Linked DNA regions of Homo sapiens: regions 1, 2, 3 and 4 are each linked to region 5. Evidence: fine-mapped expression QTL. A gene starts in region 5. Each other region holds a variant in brackets. All regions are shown on one strand. Distances are from middle to middle.

Region 1 (5,106 bases), 49 kb after region 5:
TTCACTCTTCAAGCAAAGAGCTGTCTTCAGTTCAGAAATTCTTTATTCTGCTTGGTGTAGTCTGCTGTTGGAACTTTCCATTATATTTTTTATTTCATTCATTAAAGTCTTCAGCTCCAAGAGTTTTTTTTTAATGATATCTCTGTTGAATTCTTTATTCATATCATGATTTGCTTTTCTGATTTTATTGAATTGCCTATCTATATTATCTTGAATCTCATTGATTTTCCTTAAGATCATATTTTTAAATTTTTTATGCAATTAGTAAATTGCCATTTCTTTAAGGTCAGTTATGGGAGAGTTATTGTGTTTTTTTGGTGGTATCATGTTTTCTTGCTTTTTCATATTTCTTGTGTCCCTGCACTGATGTCTGGGCATCTGATAGAATGGATGCCTCTTCCAGTTGTATAGAGTTGTTATCATAGGAAAAGATTTTTGCCTGCAGATGTGTCCTAAGGTGTCGGTTGTGGAGGATGCATTGGCTGTGGTTCCAGGTGGATGCAGTAGTGTAGTCACCATGCAGTTTTTTCAGCTGTAGTCAATGTTAGCAATTTCTATGGATGCCTCAGTGGCATCCTAGCCTGGAGGAGTTTGTATGGCAGCTCTGTCAAATCATATGCATGGCTTTTCTGCTTGTGGCAAGGGTGCCAGTTTGTTTCATGCGCCACGGGTGCACAAGGCCTACTCCAATAGGATTAGACACAGTCTGTCCTCTGGGGGCAGGAGTGCCAGGCTGTTACACACACCGCAAGTGCATAGGGACTGCTCCTTCAGGGTAAGGTGTGGCCTTCCTGCTGGGTAGGATCATCTGTTCCTTGGGCGTCAGGACACCACATGGGCTCAGGCACCAAGGTTATGGCTGTTTCACTGGGCCTATGCTCTGAGTAATTGAGGTTGAGGTGCTGTGCCACAGGGATGGGGAAGATGGAGTGCATCGTAGGCAGCTTATTCCTGGTGGATAGGAAACAGTAGCTGCTCAACTGGTGAGTGGTGTGCTACTGTTTACAAGCACAGTGTACTTGCAGCAGAGCCTCAGGATGGGGAGAAACAAACAGTGGTTACTGGCCCTCCAGAGCACAGTGTACTATAGTAGTGGCACCGGTCTCAAGATAGTGCTGTACATCAGCAGCTTAGATCACAGAGGAGAAGGAGGCACAATGTGGGCTCATTCTTTGGAGTAATACAGCCATGTGAATGCCAGGCAGCTCCCTAGAATGGGTTCATGACTTGTGAAAACTGCAGAATTCTCAAGCAGCAAAGACTGTAGGTGTTTGCATCTTTAATGGAGATTGCTGGGAGTTCTCCTGCTCACGTTTTCTCCGTAGGGAGACTGCCTCCTGGTTTCATACCGACCTTGACTGGGAAGACGAAGTGGCAAAGGCAGAATGTTTCATTCTCTTTTTTATGCAGCCATCCCAAGTCTCCATGCTCCACTGGGTCTCTGCCCCTCCCTTATTGTACTCCTTCGGAACACTTTAGTGTTCTCCTTTGGATACTCTAGTCAAAATGTAGTTGTTTATTCATCATTTTGGTTCCTTTTTTTTTGTAGGGAAATGAATGTTAGGCACCTCTAGTCAGACATCTTGCTGAAGTCACTTGTTTTACTTTTTTTGTTGTTGTTTTTAACAGGCAATTACCTTGCTTGCACTCAAACTTCAACATATGTCACCTGCACAGTGTGCAGCAACCAATGTCCTTCCTCAACACTGCTGCTTCAACCTGGTCTTCTGGAGGTTGCTCCTGCATCTGTGTAATTTAGCAGTCAGTGAAAGATGTTGGCAGCTCAAATTCATATTATAGAGCTAACTCTCTTTGTGATTTCCTTGATCCTAAGGTTTCCCCTATATTCCCATTTGCTTTTCCAGCTCTTACCTTTGTCCTCTGAGAGCCTGAGGAATTTGAGCTGCATATGAGTTGGGAACCCTGGCAGTGTAAGTTGCAGCAAACTCACCTATCTCAGTTCTAGAACATTTCTGTCTTACAAGGGAAAACCCTTCTCATTTCTTTCTGTTTTTACCCTGGGCTCCCTGGCATTTCCCACATTCATGCACAGTTAGTGGTCAGTCAGGGAACAGGACACAGTTCATATTCAGATTTTGGATCTCTGCTCTTCTTGTGGTTCTCTTGCTCCCAAAATTTTCCTCTTAAATTCTCAGCTGTTCTGCAATACTAGACTTTGATCTCACCATCTCAAGCCAGAATGGCTCTAGTTTTCCATAACTAGAGTTGGGTATGGGCTATATATTAGTTTGCTAAGGCTGCCATGACAAAGACTGGGTGGCTTAAACAACAGAAATTAATTATTCTCACAGTTCTAGAAGCTGAGAGTCCAAGATCAAGATATTGACAGGTTTGGTTTATCTCTTTGGCCTACAGATGGCCACCCTCTCACTGTGTCCTCACATGGCCTTTTCTCTGTGTGGGCTATACCTGGCATCACTTCCTCCT[T/C]TTTTTTTTTTTTTTTTTAAGATGATGTCTCACTCTGTCATCCAGGCTGGAGTGCAGTGGTGCGATCTCAGCTCACCACAACCTCTGCCTCCCAGGTTCATGTGATTCTCCTGCCTCAGCCTCCCAAGTAGCTGGGACTACAGGTGCATGCCACCACACCCGGCTAATTTTTTGTATTTTTAGTGGAGACAGGGTTTCGCCCTGTTAGCCAGGTGGTCTCGATCTCCTTACCTCATGATCCACCTGCCTCGGCCTCCCAAAGTGCTGGGATTACAGGCATGAGCCACCACGCCCGGCTCACTTCCTCTTCTTATAAGGACACCGGTCATGTTGAATTAGAGTTTGCCCATATGACCTCAGTTGACCTTAATTACCTTTTTAATGCTCTGTATCCAAATATAGTCATATTTTCAGGTACTAGGGGTTAAGACTTCAACATATGAATTTTGAGGAAACAGAATTCAGTCCATATCACGGGTTTAGGAATACACACAGGCAAGGAAGCCTCATACTCCATCTTAACCAATGCTGTACTAATGTTCTGTTTCTCTCTGCCTTTGGTCATTCCTAGTATCTTCAGATCATTGCTTTAAATAATTTTATACAGTTTTATAATTATTATTTGTGGGAAAATCACTCAATTTTATCATGCTGCTATTATTGGAATACTCACCCTTGATACGAGCATTTTTTTTTTGGCTGGGTAATACATAATACCCTAGTGCTTTTCATATTAACAAAGAGTAGCACAAGAGCTCCTTTTAGAAGGTTTTACTAACCTTCAGGCCAAGTAAGTTATCTCTCCTTTGAGCTTCCTAGGTACCCTGTGCATAATTTCTTCAAAGCCCATATTCTGTATTCATGTCTGTGTCCCAGGATGAGCACAGAGCCTTGCATATTATAATCATTGAATAAATATTTATGGAAGGAAGGAGAAAAGAAGGAAGGAAGAAAGAAGGATTAGAGGGAAAACAGTAAGGAGATAGATTATGTCCACTTTGATGTGGACATGGTAGGAACTGTAGGAAAGAAAGACGGGCAATAAAACAAGGAGGAGGTGGGGGCTGCCTAAGAGATCACAGTTCTTATTGTAACTTGCTTTCTATTCATCCTGCCCTCCCTTTCATACCCTAGATTTGAGAACAGGAGTCTAAGATGTTCAGGAATTGTAAGCAAGGGACTTCAGATGCAAAACCTATGTGTTCAGCACAGGACTTGTTACTTGAAGCAAATCCTTTGTGATAAATAACATGAATGGGACCTGACTAGTTTTATGGGAATTAGGCAGAATTTAAGTTTTAAATAAATTACTATAAGCTTGTTTGTGTTCAACTAGTTATTAAATAGAAAGGAAAACAAAAAACCTGAATATGTGTTTAGCCCCTACCATGTACCTGGCTCTGTCCCTGACACTGTGCACATTTTGTTTTTGTCTGTTTTGGGGGTTTTGTTTTCTGAGACAGAATCTCACTCTGTTACCCAGGATGGAGTGCAGTGGTGTGATCTCAGCTCACTGCAACCTCCGCCTCCCAGGTTCAAGTGATTCTCGTGCCTCAGCCTTCCAAGTAGCTGGGATTACAGGTGTGTGTGACCACGCCCGGCTAATTTTTGTATTTTTAGTAGAGACGCGGTTTCACCATGTTGGCCAGGCTGGTCTCGAACTCCTGGCCTCAAGTGATCCGCCTGCCTCAGCCTCCCAAAGTGCTGGAATTACAGGCGTGAGCCACTGTGCCAGGCCAACATTTTGTTTTTATTATGTCATTTAATGTTCATAAAAACCTAACAAGAAGGGTATTTTTAAAATCAGTTGTCTACCATTAACTTCTAGTATTGTATTTTCTTAACAAGCATACAAAACATCAAACTTCTCTTTAGACAAAGTGCAGTTCTTTGACATCCTTTACACAAAACAGTCTGAGCCTGTGGCATGTTAATGCAGTCGAGAGGCAAAGCATACTGACTTTTACAAATTCTGCCTTCCATAAAAAGCCTCAAGGAGGGTATTTTGTCTGCATTTTTAAAATAAACAGTTCAGAGAAGTTAAATAGTCAAACAGGTCAAGGTCACACAATTCAGTGGTTGAGGACTGGGTGCAAAGGCAATATATCTAACTATAAATATCCATTTCTTTTTTTTTTTAGAAATGATGCAGTTTGGATTTAAATTAAATGGCTAAAACTGAAAGAGCCGGCTGGGTGTGGTGGCTCACACCTGTAATCCCAGCACTTTAAGAGGCCAAGGCAGGAGGAGCGCTTGAGCCCAGAAGTTTGAGACCAGGCTGTGCAACATAGCAAGACCCCCGTCTCTACAAAAAATTAAAAAATTTAGCCAGGTGTGGTGGTGCATGCCTGTAGCCCCAGCTACTCAGGAGGCCTGGTGGGAGGATCCTTTGATCCTGGGGGTTTGAAGCTGCCTTGAGCCTTGATCACGCCACGGCACTCCAGCCTGGGCGACAGAGCATGGCCTGTCTCAAAACACAAACACAAACAAAAAACTAAAAGAGCAGTGAACTCAAAGGATTTCCTGCCATGCCAGGTGGGTGGAGCTTCTATGTGGGAATAAAAGATGGAACCTATTTAAAGGACTTTTTTTTTGTTTGAGATGGCGTCTCACTCTGTCGCCCATGCTGGAGTGGAATGGCGTGATCTCAGCTCACTG
Region 2 (5,106 bases), 57 kb after region 5:
CTTTCTTTTGTATAACATAAATATATATAATTTTTACTTGTCAGTTAAAAAATAACAAAAATATTAACTAAATGATAGTTCAGATAGTACTCAGATATGGCAAAAATGATAAAAGTGGTAAAAAATCATGGTAGAAATTTGAGACCATCTCAGTCCATTCTGACTACTATGACAAAACACCTCAGACTAGGTAATTTATAAGCTATAGAAATGTTATTGCTCACAGTTCTGGAGGCTGGGAAGCCCAAGATGAAGGGACTGGAAGACTCAGTGTCTAATGAGGGTCTGTTTCTCGTAGACAGTGCCTTCTCTCTGTGACCTCACATAGTGGAAGGGGCTAGCTAGCTCCCTCGGGACTGTTTTGTAAGGGCCTTAAAACCCTTCAGCAGGATGCACCGAAGGAACTTACCACTCTGGCCCCTTCTAACCCTACCACTGAGGTCCTTTTCTGTTTAACACTGACAGTTGTTCCATTACTGTTACTGATGACAGTATATCCTCTCTTTTTATTACAGCTGTGCCTGATATTCTATCCTTTCCATACTCATCCCAGTATAAACCACAAAATAGGTCTTCAGAAAAGACTGTGGCTTCACTGATTTTCCTGTGTTGCCTCCAACATTTATAAAAAAGCATTGACCAAGAGTGTCAATGCCCTAGTTTCAAAACCATCTTTACTTTTCTAAATGTAGATGTTTTTCCATTTATAAAAATTATGTAGACTTAGCCGGGTGTGGTGGCCCACACCTGTAATCCCAGCACTTTAGAGGCTAAGGTGGGTGAATCACTTGAGGTCAGGAGTTTGAGACCAGCCTGGCCAACACGGTGAAACCCGGTCTCTACTAAAAATACAAAAATTAGCCAGGTGTGGTGGTGCACACCTGTAACCCCAGCTACTCAGGAGGCTGAGGCACAAGAATTGCTTGAACCCAGGAGGCAAGGTTGCAGTGAGCTGAGATCATGCCACCACACTGCAGCCTGGGTGACAGAGTCAGACTGTGTGTCAAAAAAAAAAAAAAAGTAGACTTATACAAAATTTGAAAAATACAGGAAAGTAGAAAAGAAGAAAAAAAGGCATTTATATTCTTACTAATGAACCCTGCTAATCCCCTCCCTAATTAAAAATTCTCCTGCAAAATCCTAGCAAGTCGGGATCTACATCTGTTTATCATTCTGGAAGCTTGCAATGTTCTGGATTTAACATATTTTTGTTATTTCAAATCACAAAATAAATTTTCAATGGAGAATCCAGGGGTGGAGTTCTTTTGGCACCTCTATAAGGGGCAGTTGGGTGACTACCACAGAGGTGAGCCAAAGCTGGGGGAGGCTACTGCAGATCAAGGATAGTAATAACTGATACACTTTGCAAAATGCATTGTGTATGTAAAGCTCTTTGTCAATAATGATGGTTCACTGTTCCATGTATACATATGCTGATGTGTATATTTGTCTTTCCTGTAGGGTTTTTGGAGTCTCTGGATGATTTTTACATTCTTAGCAGTGGATTGATATTGCTGCAGACCACAAACAGTGTGTTTAATAAAACCCTGCTAAAGCAGGTAATACCCGAGACTCTCCTGTCCTGGCAAAGAGTCCGTGTGGCCAATATGATGGCAGATAGTGGCAAGAGGTGGGCAGACATCTTTTCAAAATACAACTCTGGTAAGTGACCCTGCAGAATAACTGTTAGGCACAGACATATATTTTGATTTAGGCTTGTTAACCAGTAAAGTCATACCCATGCCCCGTCTTCATGTTTCCTGATATTTCAGGCACCTATAACAATCAATACATGGTTCTGGACCTGAAGAAAGTAAAGCTGAACCACAGTCTTGACAAAGGCACTCTGTACATTGTGGAGCAAATTCCTACATATGTAGAATATTCTGAACAAACTGATGTTCTACGGAAAGGTACTTTCTTCATGTCGTAAGTCTTAAAACCTGATGAGTATGTGTGTGTTCATATATGGTAGGGGAATGCACATTGTGTGAATGTGTGGTGGGGGAGGGTATGGTGGGGAAGACAGGATGGGGATGCTATATTACACCAGAATGACCAGGTTTAGCACAACATGTAAACCTACATCTCAAACTCTTATAGGACAATGTGCAGATTGGGACGCAAATCAGGCATTCATGACTCTATGATTTCTCATAGTTCTAATGTTACCTTTTCTCCTGTGTTCCTGGTTAAAGCTTTAAGTTCAATTCAGCAAATATTTTTGGAGTGCCACTGTGGCCCAGGGACTAGAAAAGCAAGGATACAGAATCCCTGACCTGGAAGGACTCAGGAGTCTAGTAGGGAAGCAAAGCACTCAAAGCAGCTGCAGGAACTCAGGATGGGAAGAGCTGTCATCAGGTCTCATGTCCCTAGGCCAGTGGTGAACCTAAACAGAACGTGGCTGTTAGTGGGTGGAGTCAGAGAAGGCACTTCTGGTGGGCAAGAAGGAGTCCAGACATTTGAAGCCAGGAGGCTCACTGCCTTGATTCAAATCTCAGTTCCTTAAAATCTCAGGCAAATTAGTGAATCTCTCCAAGCCTCATTTTCCTCATCTATAAAACTGAATCGTGATATAGGTCCACAACCACGTATTTGTAATTTTAAAATTCCAAAATTGTAAAACCACAAATTATTATTTTGTTTCTCTTGTTTTGCTTTGATTTGGTAGCCTAGCTCACTTGGTAGCAAGAAAATGACCTGATCTGAACTCACTTGGCAGCAAAAACTACCAGAAAGAAACTTTTAGTGGTTTTTAATTTTAATTTTTATTTTTCTTCAGATGGAGTGTCGCTCTGTCACCCAGGCTGGAGTACGGTGGTGCGATCTCGGCTCCCTGCAACCTCTGCCTTTCGGGTTCAAGCGATTCTCCTGTCTCAGCCTCCTGAGTAGCTGGGACTACAGGCACGTGCCACCACACCTGGCTAATTTTTTGTGTGTTTTTAGTAGAGACGGGGTTTCACCAGTTGGCCAGGTTGAACTCCTGACCTCAGGTGATCTGTCTGCGTCGGCCTTCCAAATTG[T/C]GGTGCCCAGCCTGTTTTTTTAAATTGTCTTTATTTCCTCTTAGAGACACCATGTATACATTAGGCTACAGAAATATCAACATCTTTGATTATGAGGTGTTTCCCAAAGAGACTGTAATGTCATATAATCCATGCACTCCATGGTTGTTCTAAAGTCTGAAAAACCCTAAATTCTGAGACTCATCTGGCTCCCAAGAATTTCTGGATGTGGGAGTGTGGAACTCTACAATTTCACAGGATGGTCATGAAAATTAATTAAGATAAATAGATAGATTTATTGAGAGAAAATGTTAGCTTTAAAAATCCTACTGGACAGTTCAGACTTTATGTTTTAGAAATTGGGAGTTCCTGACAAGGGAGAATAGACTGGGTGGGAAGAAAAGAGACTAGTTAGGAGACTATTGCAATAGATCAACTGGCAGATGAATAGGGACAGAACGGAGATAAAGTGTGGACCCTAGGGATCAGGACCTGGTCCTCAGTTTTCCAGGTCCCCAAATTGACTTTGTAATGATGCCTAGAGTGAGCCTTGTCAGTGGAGAATGGGTCACACCAACTAAATGCACTAAGACTTATGCATAAAACAAAAGGTGGGAGTTTCATTGCCAAGCAGTTCATATGCTACCAAGCAGTGGACCTACCTTCTTCTTTGCTTGTTAGGAAAATCCATCCAAGAAGTCAAATCATTAGGTGGTTACTGTTTAGCATAGAGCAATTCAAAACAGAGAACCCAGCTCCTAAGAGCCTGAAAATAATAGCATGCCTCAAGAGAGAGAGATGCTTGCTAAAGTAGTCTTTTCTTCTTTGGACAGTTGCTGATAACAGAATGGTAGACTTGGTTCTCTGCAGTCCCATTCCTAGACCCCTTGAAACTCCCTAAGACTAAAAAGAGTTGATGATGATCTGTCTGTATTTTTTTTTCTTTGCCAGAGGAGAGAAGAACAGAGAGTTAAATTCAGAGTACCTACTGCATTCTAGACACTCTTCTGGGCCTTTTACTTATGTTCTCTTGTTTGATGTTTGTAACATACTACCCCATAAGTGTTATTGTTGCCATTTTACTGTGAGTAAAGAAAAGCTCAGAAAGAAACATGTTTTGCCCAAACAAATACATGATATCATATAGCCATTAAAAAGGCGGGGGCGTCGGGGTCGGGGGTGGGCACATCTCCTAACGTATTTAAGCAACTGTGGTATGGTGATAGAAGCCCTGGATGTTTTAGTTAGAAGGCCTGTATTCTGTCAAGTTTTGTGAGCCAAGGAAGACAATTGACCTCTCTGAAACTCTGTTTCTTCTGTTTAAAAAAGGGATGGTAATACTTATACATCATCAGGTTTTTGTGAGATTAAACAAGCTGCTCTATTTTCTTTATTTATTTTGAGACAGGGTCTCGCTTTGTCACCCAGGCTAGATTGCAGCTGCGTGATCTCGGCTCACTACAACCTTTGCCTCTCGGGTTCAAGCGGTTCTCGGGCCTCAGCCTCCCGAGTAGCTGGGACCACAGGTGTGCACCCCAATGCCTGGCTATTTTTTTATATTTTTAGTGGAGGCAGGGTCTTGCCATATTGCCCAGCCTGGTCTTGAACTTCAGAGCTCAAGCAATCCACCTGCCTCAGCCTCCCAAAGTGCTGGGATTACAGGCACAAGCCACTGCACCAGGCCAAGTTGCTCTGTTTTAAATCACGAAGCTTCATGAAATGTGAAGTATAAAGTAGACATTTTCGTTATTCATTTGAGCTGTTTTCACAAAGAGAAATATAATAATCTAATGTTTACCAAGTATTAGATACTATTGTAAGCACTCCATCTGAATGCATTTCATGCTCATGCTTATGAAGATGCTTAATGCTGAATAGTTAATGAAGATGAAGAAACTGAGGCACAAAGGGGATAAGCAATTTGTTCAAGGTCACATACCTAATAATGGCAGAACCAGGCTTCAAATCCAGGCAATCTAATTCCTGAGCCTATATAACCTAGATATGTTTTAGCAACAAATCTGTTTTTCTTCTTTAATTTCAATGTCATCCATATCTCAGTTCTTCTGATGCTGGCTCTGTCTCAGAATTAGCAAGGCTGAAT
Region 3 (5,106 bases), 37 kb after region 5:
AGCAATCATGTCCGGCCCCTATCAGGAATTCTGACCAAGGGCATAACCCAGTATTTCTCTGTCCTTGTGACCTGATCCTTTCTTTGAAACCAATTTGATTTCATCTTTGTCTTAGTTTGCTTAGTTGTTTTAGCATTGAGGGGGACTGGGGACTCCTCTCTCTGAGTTAGACTGTGCTTTGATTCTTTCACATTCTATTACACTGACATTTAAGGACAGCAAGAGACAGAGCAGTCCAGTATTCTTCCTCTTCCTCATCTTTGTGATAAAATGCAATATTCAGATGTTATGTGCACTGCTTTGAAATCTCTGTGGAATACAATGCTCTCCAGTAGTGTTAACAGTCCTGGATCCCAGAGGTAGTGATGGAGAAGGTCATGGAAGATTTTCTTATGAAACGTATAATCCTGTTAACATTTGCATATGTATCCTTCCAGATGAGATACACAAGTAGATTTCATAGATAATATGTAGAGCTTTTTGGAGCAATTGAATCTCCAAGAGAGCAACAGACAGTTTTATATATACCCCAAAACATTTTTACAGGAGCCAATGGAACAGTGGGATTCATATTTTCTCTAACTGGGCAGCTTTGTTCTCAGCACCAAACAGGAAAACATGTGCAGTCTCATTTATGTTACAACTTATTTTATTAAGGGACCAGCCACATTGGATTCATCCAGTAGACATGACATAGAACTATGCTTTACGATGAAGCTCATGCCATCTTAGCTGCTGAGTCCAGAACAAAGCTGGATGGCTTCCTTGTTTTTCTTTGATGGAGTTGTTTAACAGGCTTGGTCTTTTTTAGTCTTTTCTAAAATACAAAGTGGAGATTGAGGAAATTATTTCACCTAAAGAGGCTAACATGCAATACCCAGGGAAGGTCAAAAGTATACCAAAGTATACCAGGTGCTGATAACCTCAGTACCACCCTTAGGTCTGGGCACAGGAACCCCACCCTCCCAGCTTGGAATTACCTTCATGAAAATTACCTAAATCCCCCTCCAGCATCCTGAGACTGGCCAGGCTGGCAGTATCTTGACCTGTGTCTCTGTGCATCTAGTTTAGAAAGCTCCTTTCCAGAAAATTTCAAAATCCCCTTCTAGTGCCCAAGACTGACCAAGGTGGCAGAGCCATCCAGGTCAGCTTCTCTGAGTCCAGAAAGCAACGCATGTGGACTCCCTATCTGGGGGCTCTTCTCCTCCATTCCTGCCCACGCATGGGTTCAACAAGATGCCCTAAGGAGCTCTGGGACTCAAGCCTATGGCCTGGTCCTGGTAAGCAGATTCCTCTAGTTGGCCCTCACAGTATATATTTTTTGCAAGATGGTGCATAACTGAGCTGTCAGAACGGTGGTCACACGATGACCTGGGGTGACTCTCATGTCAGAGCATATGTTCAGGGCTCTATGCTACTGAAAACCACCTCTTACCCTCGGGTTTCAGCATGCAGCAGGGGAGGACGGTAAAGCGAACTTCGACCTATGAGCTCCACATCTGGCCCCTGTCGTGGCCTCCTCACCCCTGCAGCTCTGTACCATGTGTCGGTCAGTCCTTGGGGCGGGCTAGGCCTGGCCCCTCTGAGGCCTTTTGAGAACCTTGCTCCACAACACAAACGGGCCTTTGCAGCAAATCTTTTGCTGCAGTTGGTGATGTGACTTCCTACTGTCTTGGGTCAGTCTTAAGCCAGATGGATTTTTCTGGTGTGATTGGGACAGCTCTTCCAGCTCGACTTATAGGCTTCTCACCTATCCTACCCACTGGTGCCCGTGGGTGAGGAGTGAAGGTGGGGGAGGGTTCAGCATGAAAAGAGATTTGACTCATGAAGACTTGACTTAAATTGTGAAGCCTTAAATTATGAAAACTTTACTTAAATTTTCCTGGGGCTTTTAGCCTGTTCTTTTATCTTTTTATGTACCTACTTTCAAATACATGCACTTAACATTTAAACAGGCTAAGCAGGCTCATGCCTGTAATCCCAGCAATTTAGGAGGCCAGGGTGGGCGGATTATCTTGAGCTCAGGAGTTTGAGACCTGGGCAACATGGCAAGAGCCCGTCTCTGCAAAAATACAAAAAAATCAGCCGAGTGTTGGTAGCTCATGCCTGTAATCCCAGCTATTTGGGAGGCTGAGGCTGAAGAACAGCTTGAGCCCTGGAAGCAGAGGTTGCAGGGAGCCGAGATAGCACCACTGCACTTCAGCTTGGGGGACAGAGTGAGGCCTCGTCTCAAGAACAACAACAAAGAGATTACATTCTAGGGAGGCAGCAATTAGCCTGAAGAGTCCAACAGAAAACATGTCGATCTATGTTTACACTGTAAAATTCCCAGTGTAGCTTTAGTAACCATAAAACAAATTATCATTCACAATTTTTTTAACACTCTGGGTAAGGCTTGCATTTGTGGTCATCATTAACAAAGCATAATAAGGATTTTTGAGTCATTAGAAGCCAGGATTCACAGGTAGAGTGGTAGATGTCGCAAAGTCATTAAGAAAATGGTGTTAGGGAACTGCAGAGGCAAGGAGATCTGTGTTGTTTCAAAACAAACAGGTTCCA[A/G]AAAGTCATGGTTTTGTAATAACAGTATTGCTACCTTTTTCTCATAACAAAAAATAGGAAATTAGCCAAGAACAATGCATTTAATAATAAAGAATACAAAGAGATGGTACCTGGATACTGTAACAAATCTTCACGTGCACTGATTGGACAATAGACAAAACAGATTGCCTTTCTCTGCCCATCATCCTAAATCTTCAATGATAAATCATCATATCTCACATGTACTGATGAATTTTTAAATATATGTTTTTAATCAAATTGTTTATATAGGCAGGGGCCCTGTTAAAAAAGACAAACAAACAACAACAAAACAACAACAACAACAAAAAACACTTGCCTGAGGCACTGGATACCCAAAGGAAAGTGGCTTTGAATGGCCTTGTTCTAGGAGTTTCTGTCCCTAACAAGAAGGGTTTTGAATACATGGTCTGTTTGCCTAGTAACAGCTAAGGCTGAGTAAGGAATGGAGAAGCCTTGCACTAGCCCTCCCCACACATTTACTTATTTTGGCAATGCAAATTAATAATCAAGGAGGTAAGACAAAGAGATAAATCACTAGAAAATGACGGCACTGAAATGGCAGCCAATACAATTGTGTGAAGACCTCAGCACAAAGATCTGATAGTTTTAACCAATCCAGAGAAAATTTACTTGTCAACAACATTGAGTCTTCCAATCTACTAATATAATCTATTTGTTTATTTCAGTCTTTAATTTGAGTCATATCATGTAGTTTTCAGTATTTAGGTCTTACATACCTTTAAGTAAGTTAAATCCTAAGTAATGTTTGATGCTACTGTAATCAAAATGTTTTTTATTCTTTTTTCAGTTGTTTGTTGCTCATATGTATTTATTGGTTACCCATTGCCACATAACAAATTGCTCCAAACATTAGTGGCTAAAAACAATAATGATTTAGTTACTCATGGTTTCTGTGGATCAGGAATTTAGATAGGGCACAGTGGGGATAATTTGTCTCTACTGTGACTGGGGCCTCAGCTGGAAGACTCAATGACTGAGGGGCTAAAATCTCTGATAGCTTAACTGAGACTGGAACATGCACTTCCAAAACGACTTACTAACATAGCTGACAGGGTGGTGCTGGCAACTGGTTCCTCTTCACTTGGGCCTCTCCTCAGAACTGCTTGAATGTCCTTCATGGCAAGACCCCTGGCTCCAGACGAAGCCATCCAAAAGAACAAGGCAGAAATAGTAATGCCTATTGTGACCTCACCTCAGACGTCACACACGCTCACTTCCACCAGGTTCTATTAATTAGAAGCAAGGTGTTATGACCAGCCCACATTCAAGGAAAGGCGATTAGAATCCACCTTTTAAAGAGAAGGGTGCCAAAGAATTTGTGGAAATTTGAAAACTACCACAATGTATTACGATTTTTTTGTACATTATTATCCTGAGATCTTTCTAATAGCTTTTTTGTAGATTCCTTGGGATTTTCTATATATACAATCATGACATCTCTAAATAAAGACAGTTTGACTTCTTCCATCCCTTGTATGTCTTTGATTGTTTTTTTGTATGATTGTGCTGGAGAAGACCTCCAGAATAATGGAGACCATAAGTGGTGAGCATGCAAATCCTTGCCCAATTCCTGACCTAGGGTGAAAAGTATTGTCTTTCACCATTAAGTATGATGTTAACTGCAGATTTTTTGTAGATGCCCTTTATAATGTTAAGGAAGGTCCCTGCTCTTCCTACTTTCTTTAATATTTTTATCAATAAATGAGTGTTGCATTTTTCTGAATTCTTTCTCAGCAATTGTTGAAAAGATCATATGAATTTTTTCCTTTATTAATATGATAAGTTACATTGATTGATTTTCAGATGTTAAACCACTTGAAATTCCTGGGTTAATCCTCAGTCATGATGTGTTATTCTCTGTATTTATTTTTAGTTCAGTTTACTAACGTGTTAATGATTTTTTTCATTTACATTCATGAGACATATTTGTTTGTAGTCTGCTTTTCTTATGATGGTTTTTGTTTTAGGATAAGCTTATCCTCATATCCTAAATGTGGAATTATTTCTTTCTCCTAAGTGTTTTAAGAGCATGTATATGATTAGTGTTATTTTATTCTATTTATTTATTTATTTATTTATTTTTAAAGACAGGGTCTCACTCTGTCCCCCAGGCTGGAGTACAGTGGTGTGAACATAGCTCACTGCAGCCTCAAACACCTAGGCTCAAGTGATCCTCCTGCCTTGGTTTCCCAAAATGCTGAGATTACAGGTGTGAGCCACTGTGCCCAGCCCATTTTCTTCTTTAAGTGTTTAATAGAATTCACGCGTGAAGCTAGATATGAAGGTTTTTATTTGTTGAAAAGTTATTAATTGTAAATTTAATTTCTTTCACTGCTACAGAACTATTTCAGTTTTCTAACTCTTCTTGAGTTAGTTTTAAAAATGTATCTTTCAAGGAATTTATCCCTTCTTTCTAAGTTATTGTTTTTATTGATATGAAGCTATTTATAATGTTTTTCTTAACCTCTTAATGTCTGTAGGATCTGTAAAGTCCCCATTATCATT
Region 4 (5,106 bases), 74 kb before region 5:
AGCTTCCTGAGTAGCTCGGCCTCCCAAAGTGCTGGGATTACAGGCATGAGCCATCACGGGGGCCAGGCTTCCCCTTTTGAAACAGAATGAATGAAACATTGCTTCAAAATAGGATGAAACCACTTCCACTTTAGGAAATAATCTAGCCTGGCACCCTGCCCCTTTGGAAAAGCAAGGCACTATTATTCATATTTTTATTTTAAATTCATGTAAAACAGGACCAGAGACCTACCCAGGGTCACAGACCAAATAAGTGGTAAGCAGAAACACTTAAAAAAAATCAACCCTTTGCCTCATATTATACACAACTACTTAAGCAGATATTTTAGACAATTCCCTTTTACTCTGTCATTTAAACAGACTTTGAAACTAGATATAAAGTGTAGGCAAATATTAGGGCTTCAGTAATATTGTTAAGGTAAAAATAGTGGGACTAAAATTAAAATCTGATGGTGTGACCATCTGCTGAAATGGTTTCCAAATGTCACTTTTTTCTTTAAAATAATCAAGCAGCTGAAGTGTGTCACATTTCTGTTTTTCTATCATCTAAAAAATTACAGGGAATGTCATATCTGCACTCCAGTAAGACAGAAGTCCATGGTCGTCTGAAATCTACCAACTGCGTAGTGGACAGTAGAATGGTGGTGAAGATCACTGATTTTGGCTGCAATTCCATTTTACCTCCAAAAAAGGGTCTGTAATGAATGAAATGTTCACTAGTTTCCTAACTGATTTTTTTTTCAAACCCATGTAGCGTGGTCAGGAAATTGTAATACTGATCAGAAGATAAGCACTTAAAGCCACAAGAGACAACAGCTGGCTCATTCTCCAGAACTTCACACTTGTCAGTCAACGAGTATTTCCTGAGTTAAACAAATGTCCTCTGTGGATTTCCTTCATCCATGCGTCCCTTGCTACACTGAGAAATCATGAATAACTTAATGGCTTGTGGGAGCAGAACTAGCTGAAAAAAATATAGAAGGTTAGAGCAGGAAGAGACCTTAGACATCGTCTAATTTAAGCTTTTTCCTTTATAGAGGACAGCACTGAGACTCAGATTTGTCCAAGAAGGTAGAGTACAAACCAGAAGACCCATTTCCCATTCAAGACATCATTCATTTATGTGTGGTAATAAGAAATGTTAAGGAAAAAACTCTAACCAGTAAAATATATTCTTACCTCTTTCAGGATTGTGGTGAGAGTCAAAAAAGATAACATAAAGAAAACGGATTTGTAAAGTATAAAGGGCTTTTCGTGTTGAACATTTACCCTTTCTTGACTATGACTCACAGTTAAACAGACTCAGATATCTAGAACTCATGTTGCCTTAAAATACTACCTAGATCCAAACACCAAATTATATTTCTAATTCAACTTTGCAATCCTTTCGTTTTTCCTTAATAAAAGGAAAATTGCGATTCTGTCCCTACATCCACAGCCATTTCAAGCATAATATGATATTGAACTCAATCTAATAATTTCTTATTGAAGACCTGTGCCAAGCCTGGTTCATGACATAGTAGTACAAATCGTCATCAGATAACCTAGCATGACACAAATCAGATAAATTACAGGTCAAATCCTATCATCTTAAACAGCACTCGCTTATACCTACCTACCTATGGCATCAGTTACCTAAAATTTTAGCATAAGTAGATTTACTTACCTTTTCTACAACCCCTAACCTTTATGATCAACTATGCATGAATCACAATTCACAAAAATTCACAAGACACAAATTCAAAAAGGTGATGTACATTTGGACAGAGAACCAAATAAGGAAAGTGTGCATCATCATAAACATATTATTGCACCTAACAACATGAAACTATACATGTTTCATTGAAACTGGTGAAGGTAAGTCTTAAAAAGTTTATAAGGAGCTAGGTGATCCTGAAAAACTTACGAAGCATGTTGAAGAAAAATTAATTGCATGCCCGTTATTACTAAATAAGGTGTGTAATAAGGATTCAAAACTCGAGTATCTATAGGAGCTAAATACAGCATTGCACTCATGTGAAGTGAGTGAACTAGATGTAAGCACTAGGGAGTGGCAGGGACAGGAGTAAACTGTGAGTAAATTACATGCGATACTTTTTTAAGAATACTGTGGGAACCAGCAAAAACACCACTGTGGACCCTAGCTGAGTTGCAGGCTGCCAGTATGTTATGCCTTGAAAATATCAGCCATAGTCTCTTTGTCTTAATGTACTGTCTTTATCTTCTTTTGGTAAATTTATATTTAAATATGCATATACACATTAACTAATAAATTATAATAATT[T/A]AAATAAAATAAATTTAGTACACATAAAATTTGTATTTTTTTTTTTGAGATGGAGTCTCGCTCTGTCACCCAGGCTGGAGTGCAGTGGTGTGATCTCGTCTCACTGCAACCTCCACCTCCCAGGTTCAAGCAATTCTCCTGCCTCAGCCTCCTGAGAAGCTGGGACTACAGGCACCCACCACCACGCCTGGCTAATTTTTGTATTTTTAGTAGAGACAGGGTTTCACCATATTGGCCAGGCTGGTCTCAATCTCCTGACCTTGTGATCCACCTGCCTTGGCCTCCCAAAGTACTGGGATTACCAGCGTAAGCCACTACGCCTGGCCAAAATTTGTATTTTGAAGGCTTTCATAGGTTCATTCCATATGTCCCATAAACTACTAAATTCCTCAGCCTCTCATATTCTACTGTATTCATTCAACATATATTTACTGAGCATTTACCACAATCAGACCCCATTCCAGGTAAACTTTGAGAGTTTTCAAGACTATGATCCTAGCAGTTTTAAATAACATATTGCCATATGACCTCACCCAAATCCTAACATTTCATAGTTAGTCTAAAAGGTGTGTGTTCTACCTTTGATCACCAGGATTAGCAAAAATTTTTCAAAAATTTGGAATCATATCAATTCAAGGCCACTTATAAGCTATCACCCATATTTAGAGTGGATGGTGTAGGGAATTAGAGAGCAAAAGCAGGTTGGAGGCCTATGAACCACTCACCCCCCTCAACTTTGTAATCTCAATGTCTACATTTACAGACCTGTGGACAGCTCCAGAGCACCTCCGCCAAGCCAACATCTCTCAGAAAGGAGATGTGTACAGCTATGGGATCATCGCACAGGAGATCATCCTGCGGAAAGAAACCTTCTACACTTTGAGCTGTCGGGACCGGAATGGTACATCTAAACCCATTCATGTGTCCCCTCTGGGAGTGAGCCAACCTGCTTTCTAGGCTTACTGAGACCCTAATCTGTCTGTAACCACATCACAATTCCTTCAAATGCAAAATTAATGATTTCCCATCTGCATTATGCATTTTATAAGAATATAAGGAAGATTCAATATTAGGGTGCACTGAAAAGCATAAGACAACATACACTGCCAGGTGTTATTATTGTCAGTATCATTGTTAACAATCTTCGTTTACAATTGTCCTCTTTCCTTTTGATTCCAATAAGAGAATGTACCTGCTTAACATCTAAACTAGATCACTCTAACAGGATGACATACATATTTTAGTTCTTACTAAGGGTAGATGTATAGTTTTTGGCCACACGTCCTCTCAAGGGAAAATGCTTCATTCCATTCATTCAATCCTCACTTACTGAGCATTTATTACGTGCTAACCGTTAACTGTTTGGTGGGGAGTAGGGTGACTAAGGGACGTGGAGAGGGTGGGTCAAAGTATGGACAGAAGAAGCCTACTGAAGGCAGTGGTGCCTGAGCTGAGTTTTACAGCGACAGTAGCATTTTTTCTTTTTTTCTTTTCTTTTCTTTCTTTTTTTTTTTTTTTTTGAGACAGTGTCTTGCTCTGTCACCCCCAGGCTGGAGTAAGTACAGTGGTGTGATCTTGGCTCATTGCAACCTCTGCCTCCCGGGCTGAAGCAATCCTCATGGCTCAGCCTTCCAAGTAGCTGGGACGACAGGTGCACACCACCACACCTGGCTAATTTTTGTACTTTATGTAGAGACGGGGTTTCACCATGTTGCCCAGACTGAGCTCCTGAGCTCGAGTGATCCCCCAACCTCAGCCTCCCGAAGTGCTGGGATTACAGCTTTGAGGCACTGTGCCCCACCTGGTAGCCTATCCTTAAGGTAACCTTCTGGTTATAAGTGGGATGAGACCCTTTCACTGGGTGCCTCATTGAATCAACACCTGTCTACTGAGTGCTGGTCTAGGCTCTGCAGCACTCTCACTGAGCTAAGAGCCATCCAGGGGAGTGAATCAACTGGATTTCTGTTGAAATTCCTTCCATTTCTTCATGCTGTATTCTTCTTTGTAATTTATATTTTTCTCACCCAACCAGAGAAGATTTTCAGAGTGGAAAATTCCAATGGAATGAAACCCTTCCGCCCAGATTTATTCTTGGAAACAGCAGAGGAAAAAGAGCTAGAAGTGAGTATATCTTCCCGTATTCATTTCCTTGGCCTGCTATAAAATTACCATAAATGTAATGGATTAAAACAACAAAAATTTATTCACTTACGGTTCTGGAGACTAGAAGTCTGAAATCAAGTGTTCAGCAAGGCCACACTTCCTCCAGAAGAGCTAAGGGGCTAATCCATTCCTTACTTCTTCCAGAAGCTTCTGATGGCTGTTGACATTTCTTATCTTATGGCCACACAATTCAATCTCTGCCTCTTGATCACAGTTTCTCTTCTGTCTATTCTCCCTCTGTCACCTTTCTATTAGGACATATGTGATTGCATTTGGGTCCACCCAGAAAATACAGAATAATCACCTCATCTCAAGAATTGTAACTTAATTATATCTGCAAAGGCTCTTTTTCCAAATAAGGTAGCATTCATAGGTTCCAGGTATTAGGACGCAGCATGTCTTTGGGAGCCAGCCTCAGCCTACCGCATTCTCCGTGCCTTTCCACCACTCCCCAACTCAGGAATGAGCTGGCTTCTAAAGCACACATCTCATTCTCTATTTTTTTTTTTTTTTTTTTTTTGAGACGGAGTCTTGCTCTGTCACTCTGTCACTAGAGTGCAGTGGCAGGATCTTGGCTCACTGCAACTCCGGCCTCCCGTCTTCAAGCAATTCTCCTGCCTCGGCCTCCTGAGTAGCTGGGACTACAGGCGCCTGCCACC
Region 5 (5,106 bases):
GTATTCCATGTTAGAAGTAGAAAAGAGACAAAATGTTACATTCTTTTGAATCCTTGATCAGCCTTCCACAGAATACACAACTTAGTCTGGCCCAGGGAGTCTGCATTTTTACATAAACAATACTGCAGAGGAAGCAATCAGATGTGCATTTGTCTCAGGTGAGCCTCAGAGGGATGACTTTTAAGTTCTGTCTTCCCTTTGTCCACAGGGAATTTCCTTGTGGGCAAACTGTGAGGGAGGTATGTAGCTTCTTATCTTTGTAGCTATCTTATTTCAGAATAAAATGAGAGGCAGGTTTGCCTGACATAGTTTCCAGCTTGACTTTTCCCTTGGCTTAGTGATTTTGGGGTCCCAAGATTTATTTTCCTAACTATGTGTGAGTTTTGCAGCTCATTTTCCTCCCAGATATGTAAAACTGGCATAATTTAAAGAAAGCAAGATTTATCATCTAATTCAGTGATTCTCAACTAGGGGGCAATTTTGCCCCCCTACGGGAGCATTTGACAATGTCTGGAGACATTTTCAATGGGGGTGCCACTAGCATCCAGTAGGTAAAGGCCAAGGGGTGTCCAGGACAACCCCCCCACAACAAAGAGTTGTCTGCTCCAAAATTTCAATAGTGCTGATGTGGAGAAGTCCTGATCCAATTAATTTGTTTATATGTATAATTTGCTCCCCACTACTGGAATGCAAGCTCTGCAAGGGCAGGGACTTTGTTTTGTCTACTGCTCTGTGCTTGGAACATGGGAGTCAACGAATATTTGATGACAAATAATAGATGAATGAATGCCTCAAGGTTCACATTAGGCATTTATATGCATCTTACTTCATCAGAACACTTGGCTCCTTGGATCAGAAGGGTTAGTAAGGTGAAGGAGGGTGGTATAGGGCAATATGACTCAAATATTTGGGGTGGCACCACTTCCTTGAACATCCTAATGTGGTTCTCTTCCCATCATAACACAACCAAAATTTTCATTTTTGGTTCATTTTAATTTTCTAACTTGAAGGAAAATGTGCAACTTTTACAATGTCCTCGATGTCTTCATTTTAATTTTTCTTCATTTAAATTTTCTAACGAAGGAAAATGTGCAACTTTTACAATGTCCTCGATGTCTTCGTTTTAATTTTTCTTCATTTTAATTTTCTAACTTGAAGGAAAATGTGCAACTTTTACAATGTCCTCGATGTCTTCATTCATTAAATGCCATTAAACATAATTGTGACTTTAATTTTAATTAAATAAAAATGAGTTGGAGTCTCCCTGTGTGGCACAGGCTTGTCTTGAACTTTTGGGCTCCGGTGATCCTCCCACCTTGGCCTCCCAAAGTGTTGGGATTACAGGCATGAGCCATGGTGCCTGGACCACAAAATTGTGACTTGTGTTTCACAATTTGCACAGAGATTTGATGAACTTTTAGGTTCTTTATCTTTTCTAACAATTACATTTTCCCCGTTATGAAAGGTACTGCTTATTCTCTCTTCTCATCTCTCCTTGACACCTAGGTTAAGCTTAGAAGAAAGGCCAAGAGGAAGAGTGGGGTGCTGAGGTTCCCATCTGAGAGGTGGCTTGTTCCCTCCTTCCCCCTCTCCCACTGCACCTTAAACATAGCTCTAACACAGTAGAATGGCAAGTTCTGTGTACTTGTTTATCTATATGGCTTAGTTCTTTTTTAAAAAAATTATTATTGTTATTATTATTATTTTTTTTTGAGACGAATCTCGCTCTGTCGCCCAGGCTGGAGTAGAGTGGCGCGATCTCGGCTCACTGCAAGCTCCGCCTCCCGGGTTTACGCCATTCTCCTGCGTCAGCCTCCCAAGTAGCTGGACTACAGGCGCCCGCCACCGTGTCCGACTAATTTTTTGTATTTTTAGTAGAGACGGGGTTTCACCGTGTTAGCCAGGATGGCCTCGATATCCTGACCTCGTGATCTGCCCGCCTCGGCCTCCCAAAGTGCTGGGATTACAGGCGTGAGCCACGGCGCCCGGCTGGCTTAGTTCTTTTTGTCTGTGGTGAGGCATGCTCTTAGCTGTCTTTATATCACTGGTATCTGGAGTATAAGATGGGCCCAGCCAATGCTGAGTGAATGAATGAAATGCCTTTTGCCTACTTCACAATGTCACCTAGGGCACCCGGTGCCAACTTCACAATATCACCCAAGGCATAACTTTTGACTACTTCACAATGTCACTTTTAACTGACCCCACACAGAAATGGGGACTCCACAGAAACGTAGGAGTGTGTCTAGTGTCAGCCCCGTCTGAATCACTCTCCTGTGGTGGCTCCAGCCAACGAAGAGGAAGCAAAAAGGATAAAAAATCTGAGCTACAGCGCATGGATTTAGGTTAAACAGCCTGGGAATGAGGGGTACGCTAATCGCTGAGGAAAACGCACCTGTGGAGGCCTCTCCAGAAACAGCAGAGGATCCGAGCTGCGTGTAGGCAGGGCGCGCATGTCACCCTGGCCCGGGCGCCTGGTCCGCTGCTGGAGATAAATGGTCGACCCCGGAGGGAGAGGCTAGTAGGGGTGTTGATGTGAACTGATTCGCCCAAGCCTTGGGCCGCAAAACTGCGAAAGAAAGCGGCAGGCAGCCTCTGCATTTCCCAGAAGTGCAGCTGGGGAACTTTCCCAGACCGGCCCAGGGGTTGCTAGAGGGTCAGACGTAAAGGATCCGCCTTTCCTAGGCGGGGTGGGCCCCAGGCCACCACGTGAAGCGTCCTCGCCCCTCAGAGCCCGGAGCAGGCCGGGCTCAAGAAAGAGGAAAGTTGAGGACGCCCCACCTCGGAGAGGCGGCGCCCCTGAGTAGGCCAGGAGCCTCTCTTGCAACTTCTGCCACCGCGGGCCACCGCGGCCGCCTGATCCCGCAGAGGAAGGTCGCGGCCGTGGAGCGATGACCCGCGGCGGTCCGGGCGGGCGCCCGGGGCTGCCACAGCCGCCACCGCTTCTGCTGCTGCTGCTGCTGCTGCCGCTGTTGTTAGTCACCGCGGAGCCGCCGAAACCTGCAGGTGAGCAGAGCGCGCCCTGGGCGGGGGGCGCCCGGGGAGGCTCCTAGGAGCCTGTTAGCGCCCGTGCCCCGCGTCCGGCCGAGTTGACGTCCAGCGGGCGTCTGGTTCCTGGGTGAACTCAGAGAAACGCGCCTCCGGCCGGCGGTCTCGCTCCAGCCCTGCGGCTGCGCAGCGAGGGCACTTGAGAAGGGCATGGCGAGTGCGTCTGCCAACTTTACAAGTTTTGGCCCGAATTCTTGGCCAACAAATCGGTTCGCTCCTGCGCCGATTCTTGGCCCACAGAGCCTGGGCTGGTCTTAAAAACTCCAGCCAATGGGCATCTAAATATATTTATCCAGATTGTAGGGAGGTATGGTTCCGGCTTGCCATTTGTTTTGTGTTTTAAAAATTTACATTGACTTTGGCTTAAAATCACGATTGCACGATTGTCAGTTTGATACGTGCCTGGCAGTGGGCTTAAGGGCCTTTTGGTTTTGTTGTTGTTGTTGAGACAGAGTCGCTCTCTGTGGGCGACGCTGGAGTGCAATGGTGTGATCTCGGCTCACTGCAACTTCCGCCTCCCGGGTTCAAGCGATTCTCCTCCCTCAGCTTCCCAAGTAGCTGGGATTACAGGCGTCAGCCACCATGCCCAGCTAATTTGTGCATTATTAGTAGAGACGAGGTTTCACCATGTTGGACAGGCTGGTCTCGAACGCCTGACTCGGGCGATCCGCCTGCCTCGGCCTCCCAAAGTGCTGGGATTACAGGCATGAGCCACCGCGCCCGGCAGTTTTTTTTTTTTTTTTTTAATATATAATCCTAAATAGGATTATATTCCCCATTCTGCAGATGAGAAAAGTGAGATTGATCAGAAGTAATTCGCATAAAGATAACACAGCAAATAAGACAGAGTTAGGGGATGCCAGAGGGCATTTTCTTAACTACTTCCCTCTTGGAAAAACAGGTTTTATCTCTACAGGTATTCATGCAAATCTACATCCTTTGCCAAAATTAAATTAAATTAAATTAAAAAGCCTTGGATTTATGATTTCCGTTCCTAAGGAGGTGAAGATTATGAACTGTAACTAAGGGACTTGAAAGAATTCTAAAGTAATAATAAGAGAATTAATTTTGTCTTATTTCATAATCCCCTTTTCTGTGCTGACCTTGTACAAGAGTAGGGTGGGGCTTGGGGGAGGATGCCCCTTCCTAAATATGTGTACTGATTCTTATTACACTACCTTCCATCATCAAGAGCCTTCGTTTTTGAGACTTGCTTAGTTATCACTCTTCAATCTTAAATCTTTCCAGTCTGTGGGATCAGATGTACCCACAGGCTCCTGACTCGTGATTTTCTGTGTTCTTTGCCTAAACTATGGAGGTGGCCTTGGTGTCTACTTCTAGTCTAGGGAGACAGCTCATTCAGAGGTACCTGGGGGAGGCTGGGGAGGGTCCCAAAAGTGGAGGTAGCTTTTGTGTTTGGAATGCTGGCTAAAATCTTTATTCCTTTTCTGTTTTTTTGGACGAGTGAGATTAAGTGTTTTTGTAGGTGGAGGGGGCAGCCTGAGGAGTGAGACAGGCGTTGTTTTTCTGAAGATGGAGCACTATTTATTCAAGAAGGTACCACCTTGTAAGAAACTGCATCTTAAACAGTTCCTCCAACAGGAAGCTGACTCCATGCTTGGAGGTTCTGGAGCCAAGGCAGAAAGTAAGGACATTTCTGAGATGAAGTGATCCTGACAGCACCATGCCCAGCAATCTGGAAAGGATTCTTACTTACCTAGGTGTTAAGGACATCTGGTGATGCCACACTATTTCAGCAGATGAGATCTCTGTTTCCTTTGTCCTACCCACATTAATCTGTTTTCCCTTGAGGCTTTTTGGGTCTTTGTCTTTACCCTTCTACTAGCCTGCGAACAACCAAAGAGTAAAGAACTGGGACTTGCTACCTCTCACTTGTCATGTGTTCTCTGAAGTACCCAGCTCAGTACCCTGAACTTAGTAGGAATTCAGTAAACACTAAAGGGATTGCATGTCCATCCCCTTGGAATGGATTTTATATCCACTCATATGCATCTATCTATCCAAAAACAACTTCTTCAATTTTTAATTTTACTTTTT

What was found. PIP is the estimated chance that this variant, and not a neighbour inherited with it, causes the effect.
Region 1: its variant is fine-mapped to the expression of PLBD1 in whole blood (TOPMed, PIP above 0.99).
Region 2: its variant is fine-mapped to the expression of PLBD1 in whole blood (TOPMed, PIP 0.90).
Region 3: its variant is fine-mapped to the expression of PLBD1 in whole blood (INTERVAL, PIP above 0.99).
Region 4: its variant is fine-mapped to the expression of PLBD1 in whole blood (TOPMed, PIP 0.96).

Annotation. Positions count from the first base shown.
Region 1 is chr12:14,516,979-14,522,084 of GRCh38, reverse strand. All of the region lies in intron 6 of PLBD1 (phospholipase B domain containing 1), which reads left to right. Among named protein-coding and RNA genes, the nearest start is that of PLBD1-AS2, 11 kb to the left of the region's middle. The variant T/C (reference allele first, on the strand shown) is at 2,449.
Region 2 is chr12:14,508,067-14,513,172 of GRCh38, reverse strand. It overlaps PLBD1 (phospholipase B domain containing 1), which reads left to right. Exons shown (of 11, transcript NM_024829.6): 7 at 1,462-1,662; 8 at 1,773-1,913. Among named protein-coding and RNA genes, the nearest start is that of PLBD1-AS2, 20 kb to the left of the region's middle. The variant T/C (reference allele first, on the strand shown) is at 3,024.
Region 3 is chr12:14,528,774-14,533,879 of GRCh38, reverse strand. The region is part of intron 6 of PLBD1 (phospholipase B domain containing 1); the gene reads left to right. PLBD1-AS2 (PLBD1 antisense RNA 2) reads right to left here and starts at 3,741. Exons shown (of 5, transcript NR_187784.1): 1 at 3,639-3,741; 2 at 2,670-2,838. The variant A/G (reference allele first, on the strand shown) is at 2,560.
Region 4 is chr12:14,639,161-14,644,266 of GRCh38, reverse strand. It overlaps GUCY2C (guanylate cyclase 2C), which reads left to right. Exons shown (of 27, transcript NM_004963.4): 17 at 561-693; 18 at 3,048-3,185; 19 at 4,317-4,405. Among named protein-coding and RNA genes, the nearest start is that of GUCY2C-AS1, 24 kb to the left of the region's middle. The variant T/A (reference allele first, on the strand shown) is at 2,285.
Region 5 is chr12:14,565,482-14,570,587 of GRCh38, reverse strand. PLBD1 (phospholipase B domain containing 1) reads left to right here and starts at 2,705. Exons shown (of 11, transcript NM_024829.6): 1 at 2,705-3,006. The coding sequence starts at 2,892. PLBD1-AS1 (PLBD1 antisense RNA 1) reads right to left here and starts at 2,856. Exons shown (of 6, transcript NR_120465.1): 1 at 2,782-2,856; 2 at 2,396-2,569. RefSeq lists silencers at 2,835-2,944, 3,684-3,860 and an enhancer at 2,758-3,439.